Homo sapiens: one gene and its partners. The protein of the gene in region 1 interacts with the protein of each later gene in a biochemical or structural test. Each region holds a gene or a part of one and is shown on either strand. Other genes may lie near its edges.

Evidence for each region. The genes of interacting proteins can lie anywhere in the genome.
Region 2: the proteins of MYPN (region 1) and YES1 interact in a surface display test, tested with the Homo sapiens proteins (one large-scale study listed by IntAct).
Region 3: the proteins of MYPN (region 1) and MAST2 interact in a test that uses a peptide from one of them, tested with the Homo sapiens proteins (one large-scale study listed by IntAct).
Region 4: the proteins of MYPN (region 1) and MPP7 interact in a test that uses a peptide from one of them, tested with the Homo sapiens proteins (one large-scale study listed by IntAct).

Annotation. Positions count from the first base shown.
Region 1 is NC_000010.11:68,122,988-68,126,487, reverse strand, and holds part of MYPN (myopalladin), read right to left. Parts: intron 1-3,500. UniProt on the Homo sapiens protein: Component of the sarcomere that tethers together nebulin (skeletal muscle) and nebulette (cardiac muscle) to alpha-actinin, at the Z lines.
Region 2 is NC_000018.10:802,243-805,742, forward strand, and holds part of YES1 (tyrosine-protein kinase Yes), read right to left. Parts: intron 1-3,500. UniProt on the Homo sapiens protein: Non-receptor protein tyrosine kinase that is involved in the regulation of cell growth and survival, apoptosis, cell-cell adhesion, cytoskeleton remodeling, and differentiation.
Region 3 is NC_000001.11:46,023,612-46,027,111, forward strand, and holds part of MAST2 (microtubule-associated serine/threonine-protein kinase 2), read left to right. Parts: intron 1-160; coding exon 161-369; intron 370-2,065; coding exon 2,066-2,204; intron 2,205-3,500. UniProt on the Homo sapiens protein: Appears to link the dystrophin/utrophin network with microtubule filaments via the syntrophins. Phosphorylation of DMD or UTRN may modulate their affinities for associated proteins. Functions in a multi-protein complex in spermatid maturation.
Region 4 is NC_000010.11:28,296,565-28,300,064, forward strand, and holds part of MPP7 (MAGUK p55 subfamily member 7), read right to left. Parts: intron 1-3,500. UniProt on the Homo sapiens protein: Acts as an important adapter that promotes epithelial cell polarity and tight junction formation via its interaction with DLG1. Involved in the assembly of protein complexes at sites of cell-cell contact.

The DNA.
Region 1 (3,500 bases):
TTTCCAGGTGTGACTTATTCTTGCAGATTAATTATCCTTAAATCCTCCCTTTCATCTTGTTACTTCCCTATACATAACCTTAAATGGTTTCCAGTTTGTTTTGAAACCAAGTCTGAACTACTCTGCTTTGCTTTCAAGGTTCTTCGAAGTCATCTGACTCTACTCTCCTTTCCAGTTTGGTCAGTGTCCTCTCTGCTATATAAAAAATATTATTATAATTAGAGCGTCTGTGCCTTTCCATAAACATGCTGAAGTGACCTGGCCTGAAAGGACCCATTCCTTCCACCTACCTCTTCAACCTTATCTCTAATCTTTCTTACCTTTACCCTATGTTCTTGACATAGATGAGTACTTATGGTTCCCTGATAACACTTGCCTCGGGAGCTTTGCACTTGCTTTCCCCTCTACCCTTGGCCTCCTCTACCTCCTGTGTTAACACTTCCTTTATCATGCACTCCAGGCCAAGCAACTCATATACTCTTTTAAGCCACCACTGCCTCCTCTACAGACTCCTGTCATAGCCCTTATTACATAATACTGCAGTGATTGATTTGTTTGCTGTCTGCCTGATTCCTAGCTATTAGATTGTGAGCCACCCTCTCAGAAGAGTTTAGATTTGGTTTCAAAACAAGATTTATGACCTCCACTAGCTCACAATTGTTTTGTACTCCCAGTGAATCACTTTAGTAACTCAATTGATATTTGTTGAATGAGTAAATAAGAAACTTTCTACCTAAATTTTCACTATTCAAAGTTCAAGTAAAATCCTCCTACATCTCTGAAGACTTCTTTGACTTTTCTAGTCCTTCACTCCTTCTCTGACACCTGACACTACTTAAAGTTTGTACTATAAAAATTAGGATTATTTCTTTAACTGTATTGCAAGCTCCTTGAAGGCAGGGATGCATATTTATATTGTGTCTGTCATTGCATTGATCACTGTGCCGAACACACAGTAAAAACTAACTAAATAAATACATATTTGCTTTCTGATTGGAGTTATATAAATTCTGTGCTTAGGAAAATGGCAGCTAATAGTCTACTCGGACAATTCTAATTCTATTCTTAATCTAATTGCAGTCATAAAATTAAGTACTAACTCATTCAGAAAATATTTAGCATATACCTACTAATTTCCTAGCATCCAACCAGTGGTTAGGATACAGGCATGATTGCTGTCAGTAAAGAAATTCTTCCCAGGAAAAATTAGCATTGCTACATGGAAACTGTGTACATTTCTTTCACTTTTAAATTTGAAGATTTGCAAATTTTTAGTTGGCTGATTAAATGGTTTCTGAGTGGCCACCAGATTACTTTGCTTTGTGGGGAATGTCTTCCTAATTGACATTTCTTAGTGGTGCATTGAATTCATTCTTGTATCTGAGATTGTCATGGTTGAAAAATGAGTAGGATGAGACCTGAATGATCTGGTCTAATTTTTGTTTTAATCAATCTATGTCCAGAAACTAATGGATTGGACAGGACTAACCTAAGTTTTGTGTATATCACAACTGGAGTGCTCACCAGCTTACTTAGACTGACCAGATGCTGCTGAGTAGTAGCTGTCATGGGGCTGTAGTGACATCTCACTAGCATTACCAACCAGAGTCCCAGGGAGTATCATCAGGCACGTTCAGAGCAGAAGAGTAGACACCGCCCTGTGTTTTTCAGTTCCAACCCTTTGCTACATCTTAGGCCAACGGTCTCACTTCTGATTTAAATCTAAGTTGAGTTTCTTGTTTTCCTGTTTCTTTATCCACTAGCTCATTCAACATTTCTGAGTGGCTACCATGAGCCCAAAGCTGTGCTCAGTGCTCAAGACACAAAGGTAAAAACAACAGAATCCCTGCCCTCAAGGAGGTCAGCAGGATAACCTAATAGTCAAATGTATCTGCCACTGTAGAAATAATATTTGGCATTGCCTTATGTCGCCTTTGAAAAGCAAAAATCAATATATGAATATGTCTTTGGGCCAGAATCCCTTGAATTAATATGCCTATATATAAACAAAAATGCTATTATTAATACTACTATTGTCCTATAATTGAATATTATGGAATAAAAAGATGATGCCCAGATGCCCTATTTACATACAGAGAATAAATGTTAAATAGTAATGAAATCATATTCTAGTAATAATCAGGTAGTTACAAACACAAAGTAACTCTTGTAGGACTCTAAATACCAGGAATTCTCTACAAAAGTAATCCACTTCAACCACATTTTTCACATGTTATTCCATTATAAAATCAAAAGTAGGACATGTTACCCTAGGGGCTAACGCTGGTTCCAGGTTTTGTGGGACCTGAAGCTCATAAATGTGGAAGGGCTCCTTTAAAAAGTAAAATAAACTTAGAATGCAAAATTAGGTATAGCCTAGTCAAGTGAGGCGTCCTGAAACTTGCACTGCATTTGCCTCACAGAAAAGCTGACCATGGTAGGCAAATAAAAGATGAATAACCTCTCTATCCATCAGTCATAGCTTTCATGAAGCTGACATGGAAAGTGTATAATACATTTAATACATGTATAATGAATCTTTAAATTGACTTTAGCCTCAGCCCAATTCTATAGGTTTTTATGCTATTATTTGGGTTTCTTTAAAGTTTAAAAAAATACTGCAGGTATTCATTGCATAGAGACCTTTTTTAGGCTATAAATTGTAGCCCTGCGCTGTCCAATACTGTAGTCATTAGACACATGCAGTTACTGGGCACTTGAAATGTGGCTCGTGCAACTAAATAACTGAATTTTTAATTATACTTATTTATTTATTTATTTATTTATTTATTTATTTATTTATTGAAGGAGTCTCGCTCTGTCGCCCAGGCTGGAGTGCAGTGGTGCAAGCTCGGCTTACAGCAAGTTCCGCCTCCCGGGTTCACGCCAGTCTCCTGCCTCAGCCTCTCAAGTAGCTGGGACTACAGGCGCCCGCCACCATGCTTGGCTAATTTTTTTTTTTTTTTTGTATTTTTAGTAGAGACCGGGTTTCACCTTTTTAGCCAGGATGGTCTCGATCTCCTGACCTCGTGATCCGCCCGCCTCAGCCTCCCAAAGTGCTGGGATTGCAGGCGTGAGCCACTGCGCCAGGCCTAATTTACTCATTTTGAGATGGAGCCTCCGCTCTGTAGCCCAGGCTGGAGTGCAGTGGTGCGATCTCGGCTCACTACAACCTCTGCCTCCCAAGTTCAAGAAATTCTCTCTGCCTAAGCCACCTGAATAGTTGGCATTACAGATGCCTGTTACCACGCCCGGCTAAATTTTTTTGTATTTTTAGTAGAGATGGGGTTTCGCCCTGTTGGCCAGGCTGGTCTTGAACTCCTGACCTCAAGTGATCTGCCTGCCTCGGCCTCCCAAAGTGCTGGGATTATACGCTGGAGCCACTGCGCCCGGCCAAAATGAAGGTTGTATTCCCTAGGAAAATTTAACATCCAAATTGAAATATGCTGTCAGTGTAGAATTCACGCCGAGTTTCAAATCCCTGGTATAATAAAAATAAT
Region 2 (3,500 bases), on another chromosome or scaffold:
ATCTCTCTTAAAAAAGAAAGAAAATAAAATAATTAGAAAGTATTGCCAGGCGTGGTGGCTCATGCCTGTAATCCCAGCACTCTGGGAGGCCAAGGCAGGTGGATCACCTGAGGTCGGGAGTTCCAGACCAGCCTGACTAAAAATACAAAAAATTAGCCAGGCAAGGTGGTGCACGCTTGTAATCCCAGCTACTCAGGAGGCTGAGGCAGAAGAATCGCTTGAACCTGGGAGGCAGAGGTTGCAGTGAGCGGAGACCACACTATTGCACCCCAGCCTGGGCAACAAGAGTGAAACTCCATCTCAAAAAAAAAAAAAAAAAGTATTAATTGAACATTCTCTGCCAGCAATTCAAATGTACTATTTAATGAAGAAGAAAAAAGACAAGAAATCTCCCTTTCCATCATTGCTCCTCATTCCTAAGAAAGTTATGGCATATGGAACAGGCTTGTAGTCAGCCCTAGGTTTAAATCCCAGTTCTGCCGGTTGTGTGACCTTAGCAAATTATATATACTTTCTGATTCTCAGTTTCTTTATCTGTAATAAATACCTACCTCAAGGGGCCCAGCACAGTGGCTCACACCTATAATCCTAGCACTTCGGGAGGTTGAGGCAAGTGGATCGCTTGAGCCCAGGAGTTCGAGACAGCCTGGGCAACAAGGTGAAACCCTGTCTCTATTCTAAAAAAAAATAAAAATAAAAAACAGGCTGGGCATGGTGGCTCACACCTGTTTTCCCAGCACTTTGGGAGGCCGAGGCGGGAGGATCCCTTGAGCCTAGGGGGTTTAAGATCAGTCTGAGCAACATGGTGAGAAATTTTGAATTTTAAAAATTAAAAAAAAAATTAGCTGGGCATGGTGGCTCACAACTGTGGTCCCAGCAGCTACTCAGAGACCAAGGTGGGAGGATCACTTGAACCTGGGAGGCAGAAGTTGCAGTGAGCCAAGGTTTTGCCACTTCATTCCAGCCTGGGTGTCAGAGTGAGACTCCGTCTCAAAAACAAAAAATAAATACCCATCTCATTCCTAATTTTTCTGTGTATTTTGGAAACACATTTCAAAGATTCAAGTCAAATGTGATAATGCATATAAAAGTATGGCATAGCACCTATCATAGGACAGGCTTTCTTCTTTCCCTACCCAATGCCAAAGTGAGGTGAATGGGTGGGAAATAAAAAAAGCACAGAGAAGGTAAAGAAGTTACAAACTCCATATTGTAACACTCCTCATTTTCCCAAACCCTTTTCTACTATTTTTGTTTATTACCCCCAATCTTTTGAAGCTTTTCTATACCTCATACTGTCCTATAGGGTTAGAGTATGAGGCAGGTTTCACTGCCACTAGCAAGCAGGTGGGGAAACCTAGGGAAGTTTCTGTACTTAAATTAAGCTTAATAGCAATGCCTTATTGGGAGAATCTGAGTCTCCTAACAGGGAACTCAAAACAGTGATTTTTAAATAGTGAGGAGCTGGTAAGGTGGGAAAGGAGGGTGACTGGCAAGGCTACAGGTTCACCCACCTCATAATCAGAGCACTTGTAGGCCAAATATTTTATTTGTTCAAAGAGCTCAGCAGTTAACAAAAACCAGGCAAAAACTGATAATCAGTCAGAAAATATTTTACCACCAAAGTATTATTTTACCTATTTGTGAGGCTTTTATAAGACTCCAACGGGCTGCCTAGAAATCAGGCCAAAAGGCTTATGTTACAGAAAAGACTTCCTGGAAAAACAGATTCTAATTTTCAAAACATCAACTTACAAACTTTCAGAACACTGTAATTTTAGTTTCTTTGTTTTAGAAAATCTATTTTACAAACCTTAAAAGGCTAACCATTTTCCAATGCCATGCTTGTCTTGTTCTAAATATTAACTGTATGTGTATAAAGACAAATATCCAGAACAAGTTGTCCATACCTTTGTCAATTAAAAAAATTAAATGTAAATTTTGATGATAGTGGCTATTTTTCTCATATAATGTTGCAAAGTTTTTATTCAAATAGCCACGATTACTTGTTAACTGACATCATAACTATCCACTTCAACAGAATAATTAAGTCATTTTTCTAATTTTATTACGAAAAAATCTGGGCTAGGCACAGTGGCTCACGCCTGTAATCCCAATACTTTGGGAGGCCAAGGCAGGCAGATCACCTGAGGTCAGGAGTTCGAGACCAGCCTGGCCAACATGGTGAAACCCCCATCTCTACTAAAAATAAGAAAATTAGCTGGGTGTGGTGGCACACACCTGTAATCCCAGCTACTGAGGAGGCTGAGGCAGGGAGAATTGCTTGAACCCGGGAGGCAGAGGTTGCAGTGAGCCGAGATTGCACCACTGCACTCCAGCCTGGGCAATAGAGTGAGACTGAGTCTCAAAAAAAAAAAAAAAAAAAAAGGCCAGCTGAGGTGGCTCACACCTGTAAGCCTGGCACTTTGGGAGGCCAAGGCGGGCGGATCACCTGAGATAGGGAGTTGGAGACCAGCCTGACCAACATGGAGAAATCCCATTCTCTACTAAAAACACAAAAATTAGCCGGGTGTGGTGGCACACGCCTGTAATCCCAGCTACTTGGGAGGCTGAGGCAGGAGAATCACTTGAACCCAGGAGGCTGAGGTTGTAGTGAGCTGAGATCAAGCCACTGCACTCCAGCCTGGGCGACAGAGTGAGACTCTGACTCAAAAAAAAAAAACACAAACCAAAAACCTAGCATAGTAGTATAAATGTTTGCTTAATTAGTAGAACTGCAATTTGCTTGAGAAAGTTCCGTGTCAAGTCCATGGGTCAGTTTTTTATAATCTTTACTTATATCTAATGTGATTCCAAATTTTAGACTCAAACATTTCCTTAAAATTTTATCAATACGGTCATGCATCACTTAACATATATTCTGAGAAATGCCTCATTAGGCAATTCTGACATTATGTGAACACTCTAGAGTGTACTTACACAAACCTACGTGGTATAGCTGACTACAACCTTGGGCCATATAGTATGGCCTATTTCTCTCAGGCTACAAACCTGTACAGCACACAACTGTACAGAATACTGCAGGCAACTGTAACAGTATTTGTGTATTTAAACATAACTAAATGTAGAAGAGATACAGTAATTACACAGTATAAAAAAATAAAAAATGGTACACCTATATAGGGCAGCTCTACTATAATCTTACAGGATCACCATCATTGAAACTTCCTTAGGCAGAGCATGACTATATTGTAACAACTTCAACTGCGGCAGAGCACACATTTATATATAAAGCTGAGAAACTATTAGAAACCATGAGGCCCAACTACCTTTTGTTTCAAATTGCAAAACTAACGCCTAGGGAGTTTACTGAATCGACCAAGGCTAAACAGCTCTTCACTGTCAGAAATGAAACTAAAATCTAGATAGTGTTAGTGCTCTACCTTCCAGTCCTTTCCTTATAACACCATATTGCCTTCTCTGCTCCTTCCAAATGTCTGGCTGCTATTATTTTTAAAGTATCCTTATCTGTAAAATAT
Region 3 (3,500 bases), on another chromosome or scaffold:
CTATGGACCAGGGGGTCCCAGACCCTTCTCACTGATATGCATGCCCTTGCCCCCTTGTTCTGTGCATTAATTAAGGTGTGAGAGAAGGCAGTTTGGGTGGCAGAGAGCACAGCTCAGGTGCTGAGGGTCCATGGGGGATGGGCCGGACTTTGTTTCCCAGGGCTGTATTTCTGGTGCGGCACAAGTCCACCCGGCAGCGCTTTGCCATGAAGAAGATCAACAAGCAGAACCTGATCCTACGGAACCAGATCCAGCAGGCCTTCGTGGAGCGTGACATACTGACTTTCGCTGAGAACCCCTTTGTGGTCAGCATGTTCTGCTCCTTTGATACCAAGCGCCACTTGTGCATGGTGATGGAGTACGTTGAAGGTACTGAGGCAAAGGTGGCCTGGCATGGAGGCCAAGGCACAGTCTGAGACTTAGCCTTAAACAGGGACCAGCAGCTTTGTACAGAGGTGAAGTTTCAGGGCCCAGCTTTCCAGTCCACCTTTGGCATTGGTTTCTGCCTCAGGATCACAGAGACCATTTGGCCACAGTGGGCACAAAGCTCCCTGCCTCTACCATGAGAGGCATTCTGGGATAGGATGTAGCAGGCCAGCAGCTATAGAATCTTGCACCCCAAAGCCTGCACGCTCTCTACTGCTGGTATCAGACAGCAACAGAGGAGGCAGCAGAGCTACAAAAGCCCAGGATTAGGTGCTAGGAGGTTTGCATCTGGACCCTCAGAAGAAAGGAAAGCCATTAATTACCCTGACTGGCTTGCAAAGGGGACACCCCTTAAAACCAAGCAAAATGCTCTGAGAATAGAACAGAAGAGCAACATGGGGCATAGTTCTGGAGGGAGGCAGCAGCTTTGCCAGTTTCCCTTCCCTCTCACCTTCTCACTGTGTGTACAGCCTCCAAAGATACTGTGCCTAGTCTTGAAGCTGAAGCTGAACAAAACTGTCCTTTAGTGTTTACTGGGTACATGCTGGGAGTTCATAGTGTTACTTTACTCAGAAACTAAAAGCCAGTAAGAAGGAAGTAACATGAACAGATGTTAACATCTCAGCCAGATGTGTTTACAGTATGCAGTATTCCTGTCCTAAAAAACATTAGGCTGGTACAAAAGTAATTGCATGTTTGCCATTACTTTTAATAAAGGCCTGGGTTCCTTCCCTCTCTGGCCTGAAAAATGTCCATGACAGCTATTAGCAGATTCACTTTACTTTCCACCCCCCTCCATACCCTGTGTATTTTCATGCTGCTAATAAAGGCATACCAGAGACTGGGCAATTTACAAAAGAAAGAGGTTTAGTGGACTTACAGTTCCATGTGGCTGGGGAGGCCTCACAATCATGGCAGAAGGTGAAAGGCATGTCTCACATGGCAGCAGACAAGAGAGAGCTTGTGCAGGGAAGCTCCCCTTTATAAAACCATCAGATGGGCCGGACGTGGTGGCTCATGCCTGTAATCCCAGCACTTTGGGAGGCTGAGCCAGGTGGATCACCTGAGGTCAGGAATTTGAGACCAGCCTGACCAACATGGCGAAACCCCGTCTCTACAAAAAATGCAAAAATTAGCTGGGTGTGGTGGTGCACGCCTGTGATCCCAGCTACTCGGGAGGCTGAGGCAGGAGAATCGCTTGAACCTGGGAGGCAGAGGTTGCGGTGAGCTGATATCACACCACTGCACTCTAGCCTGGGTGACAGAGCAAGACTTTGCCTCAAAAAAATAAATAAATAAAAATAACCATCAGATCTCATGAGACTTATTCACTATCACGAGAATAGCATGGGAAAGACCCACTTCCATGATTCAGTTATCTCCCTCCAGGTCCCTTCCCACAACACATGGGAATTATGGGAGCTGCAATTCAAGATGAGCTATGGGTGGGGACACAGCCAAACCATATCACCCTGTCTCCCACCCATGCCAGCAGCAAAGGGGCTAGAATCAGAGTCTCCAGCACCAGGATATTCCATGAAGCTGTCTCCTCTGGGACCTCAGAAACTGCCAGATGGGAGCTGGCTAGCTAGAGCAGGGAACTGAATCCTTTCCTCATGGTAGCCTGGGCTTGTTGCAGGGGGAGACTGTGCCACTCTGCTGAAGAATATTGGGGCCCTGCCTGTGGACATGGTGCGTCTATACTTTGCGGAAACTGTGCTGGCCCTGGAGTACTTACACAACTATGGCATCGTGCACCGTGACCTCAAGCCTGACAAGTATGTCCACAGTCTGTGTCCCTTGTCCAGGGTCTCCCTCTTGGGTCTCCAGATAAAATGTTGGCAAGCACAGTAGCTCTAAATCTATCCAGATGGCTACCGGGAAAACATGCTCCTGTGTGTGTCCATCTGGGCCTAGTTCTCTAGCCCCCCGACCACCCCAGATGCAGATCATTGCCTCAAGGTCTGGCTGGAACACTATAAGGCTTCGGTGACATGGAAGAGTCATTGAGGAGCCCCACTGAAGAAACCAAGCAAGAACAAAAGAATAAGCACATCTAGTAGATGGCTAAACAAGTGTCCTGACGTTTACTGACATCTACTCTGTGCCAGCACTATATTGTGGGTTTTTAAATGTAGTCCCTGGCATGTAGAACTTAAGTCTACAGTGGGAGACAGAAATATATGTATATAGGCTTCTTCTCAGAGGGTATTAGTCAAGTGGAAAAAGGAAGACCTGCTTTCTAAAGCAGGAGAGCAGAATGTGCAGAGTCACACAGGTGCAAGAGAACAGCACTTGTTCAGGAACTACAAATAGTGCAATATGGCGACAGCTTAGATGGTGAGAGAGTAGTAAGAGAAAAGGCTAGAGAGAGAGGCAGGAACTAGTTCATCAAGGGCCCTTTTGTTATATTTGGGTTTTATTCTAAAGGGGCCTAGAGAGTCTTGGAAGGGTCTGCTAACCAAAGATATGATAGAATGGCATGCCCAGATTATGGTTCAGGTTTAGAAAGCTCACTCTGCCGGTGAAAAGAGACACTGAGACCACTGCCAAAGAGATACCGAGACCAGGGAAAGACAGCAATGCCTGCAGCAGAACAGGGAGTCAGGATAGAAAGAAGAGGGGTAGTGTGGGGAAGTATAAAGGAAAGAGGATCAGGCTGGGGTGGGGGTAGGAAGGGAAGTGAGGGAACAGAAGAGGCTGGGATGTGTTCCAGATTTCCAGCTTGGGACTGGTGCAGGGTGATAAGCCTCTGTGGAAGAAAGTGGCTTTGACATAAGACAGACCTGAATTCAAATGGCCACTCTTCTGCTTATTAAGTCTGAGTTTGAGTCTACTAATTAAAGTTTCCCTGACCCTCACGTTCCTCCTTTCTAATATAGGGAATAATTACACCTACCTTTGATGTGTTACTCTAGAAAACATTTCAGGGGCCAGAATATTTTTAAAGCACTTAGCACAGAGCTCAACAGATAACCAAAATTATTGTTTTTCACTGAGGAGGGGAACCAGTTGGGAGGCATGACTTTGTTTTGGACAGGTTGAGTTTCTGGAGCCTGTAAGACACATGGGCA
Region 4 (3,500 bases), about 40 Mb from region 1:
ATCGCAACTGCTATGTATTTTCATCTCCCTTCTCTAACAATCAGTAACAAGCAACCCAATCAGTAATAAACAAGCCTGACAAATAGCTCCTAAATTCACAGAGAAAAGAATGGTCTCCTCTCTTTCATAAGTAAAGCAAGCTGATAATGTTCTAGTAAATAGAAAGACTAAATGCCTCTTCAAGAAAAAAACATTTATATGCCTGGAAAAAACATCTTGGGTTTTTTTGTTTTTGTTTTTTTACTTAAGTATCTGTTCATAGTAGGTAGCAAATAATCTTTCCACACATATGCACTTTACCAGTTCTTTTAAAGACTCAGTAATCTAAGAAAGCAAAGCATAAGACTATGCTGAAAGAGCTAAGCCGCAGTTTACATAAAATTTAAACAAAACACAAGACATTAAAAAAATTCAACTACTCATAAATAAAGACCAATAAATCTACACTTTGGTCTGGGTTTCTGAACACAGGAAGAATCAGAGGGTTCAATAGGAGAGGTTATTTCTGAAATCGTAGGCATACCTTGAAGATATCACATGTTCCATTCCAGACCACCTTAGTAAAACTAACACTGCAATAAGGTAACAGAAATGTTTCTGCTTTCCAAGTGCATATAGAAGTTATATTTACAGTATACTGTAGTCTATTATGTTGGCAATAGCATTAGCTCTTAATTTTAAAATGCTTTATAATTTTTTTAAAATGCTAGTGATCATCCGAGCCTTCAGGGAGTCATAATCTTTTTGCTGGTGGAGGATTTTGCCTTGATGTTGATGGCTGCTGACTGAACAAGGTGCTGGCTGCTGAAAGATGGATGGCTGTGGCAATTTCTTAAAATAAGAAAACAATAAGGCCGGGCGCTGTGGCTCACGCCTGTAATCCTAACACTTTGGGAGGCTGAGGTGGGTGGACTGCGTGAGCTCAGGAGTTCAAGACCAGCCTGGTCAACAGAGTGAAACCCCATCTCTACTAAAATATAAAAAATTAGCCAGCTGTGGCAGTGTGCACCTGTAATCCCAGCTACTCAGGAGGCTGAGACAGGAGAATCTCTTAAACCTGGGAGGCGGAGGTTGCAGTGAGCCAAGATCGTGCCATTGCACTCCAGCCTGGGCAACAGAGCGAGACTCCGTCTCAAAAAAATAAAAAAAATGAAGTTTGCCACATCAACTCACTCTGCCTTTCAGAAAAGATCTCTCTTTTGGTAGCATTTCACCCACAGTAGAACCTCATTCACAATTGAAGTCAATCCTATCATACCCTGCCACTGCTTTATTAACCAAGTTTACAGAATATTGTAAATCGTTCATTGTCATTTCAACAATGCTCACAGCATCTTCACCAAGAATAGACTCTCTCTCAAGAAGCCACTTTCTTTGCTCATTCAGAAGAAGCAACTCTTCATCCATTCGAGTTTGATAATAAGATTGCAGCAATTCAGTCATATTTTCAGGGTCTACTTCTAATTCTAGTTCTCAGTATACTATTTCCACCACATCTGCAGGTACTTCTTCCACTGAAGTCTTGAACCCCTCAAAGTCATCCATGAGAGCTGGAATCAACTTCTTCTAAATTCCTGTTAATGGTGACATTTTGACCTCCTCCTTTGAATCACAAATGCCCTTAATGGCATCTAGAATTGTGAATCCTTTCCAGGTTTTCAATTTACTTAGCCAAGATCCATCAGAACAATCACTATCTATGGCAGCTATAGCTTTACAAGATGTGCTTCTTAAATAATAACTCTTGAAAGTTGAAATGACTCCTAGATCCATGGGTACAGAGTGGATGTTGTGTTAGCAGGTATGAAAACATTAATTTCCTTGTACATCTCCATCAGAGCTCTTGGGTGACCAGGTGCATTGTCAATGAGCAGCACTTGTTCAATGGTACCCTTTCTTCTGAGCAGTGGGTCTCGACAGTGAGCTTAACAGATTCAGTAAACCACGCCATAAACAGATGTACTGTCATCCAGGCTTTGTCGCTCCATTTATAGAGCACAGGCAGAGTAGATTTTGCATGACGCTTAACAATTTTTGGAATGGTAGATGAGCAGTGGCTTCAACTTAAAGTCACCAGCTGCACTAGCTCCAAACAAAAGAGTCAGCCTGGCCTTTGAGGTGAAGCACTGACTTCCTTCTAGCTAAGAAAGTCCGAGACGGCATCTTCTTCCAATATAAGGCTGTTTCATCTACACTGAAAATCTGTTGTTCAGTGTAGCCACCTTCATCAGTGATCTTAGCTAGATATTCTGGATAACATGCTACAGCTTCTATATCAGCATTTGCTGCTTCACCTTGCACTTTTACATTAGGGAAGCAGCTTCTTTCCTTAAACCTCATGAACCAACCTCTTCTAGCTTCCAACTTTTCTTCTGTAACTTCCTTACCTCTCTCAGCCTTCATCGAATTGAAGAGAGGGTTTTGCTCTGCTGGCTTAAGGGAATGTTGTGGCTGGTCTGATCTTCTATCCAGACCACTAAAACCTTCTCTATATTAGCAATAAGGCTGTTTCACTTTCTTATCATTTGGACGTTCAGCAGAGTAGCACTTTTAGTTTCTTTCAAGAACCTTTCCTTTGCATTCAGAGCTCGCTTGTTTGGTGCAAGAGGCCTAGCTTTTGGCCTGTTTCAGCTTTTGTCATGACCTCCTCACTAAGCTCACTCATTTGTAGCTTTTTGATTTAAAGTGGGAGACACGCGACTCTCCATTCACTTGAATACTTAGATGCCAATGTAGAGTTATTAATTGGCCTAATTTCAATATTGTTGTGTCTCAGGGAATAGGGAGGCCTGGGGAGAGGAAGAGAGTTGGGGAATGGCCAGTTGGTGGAGATATCAGAACATATGTAACATTTATCAGTTAAGTTCACCATATTATATAGGTGCAGTTCATGGAGCCCCAAAACAATTAGAATCGTAACATCAAAGATCACTGACCAGAGATCACCATAACAGACAGAATAACAATGAAAAGTTTGCAATATTGTGAGAATTACCAAAATATGACAGAGACACACAAAATGAACATACACTATTGGAAAAATAGCACCAATCGACTTGCAGGGTTGCCAACGAACCTTCAGTTTGTAAAAAACACAGTATCTTCAGAGAGCAAGCCTGACTAACAATTTCCTTCACTTTAAATTCAAAATGAAGGAATACCCTTTCCTTCCGAATGTATCTCATTTAACAAAATTCAAGACTTTTTTTTTTTTTTTTTGAGACGGAGTCTCGCTCTGTGGCCCAGGCTGGAGTGCAGTGGCACGATCTCAGCTTACTGCAAGCTCTGCCTCTTGGGTTCAGGCCAATTCTCCTGCCTCAGCCTCCCGAGTAGCTGGGATTACAGGCGCCCACCACCACGCCCGGCTAATTTTTTCTATTTTTTAGTAGAGACAGGGTTTCACCGTGTTAGCCAGGATGGTCTCAATCTCCTGACCTTGTGATCCGCCCGCCTCGGCCTCCCAAAGTGCTGGGATTACAGGCGTGAGCCACCATGCCTGG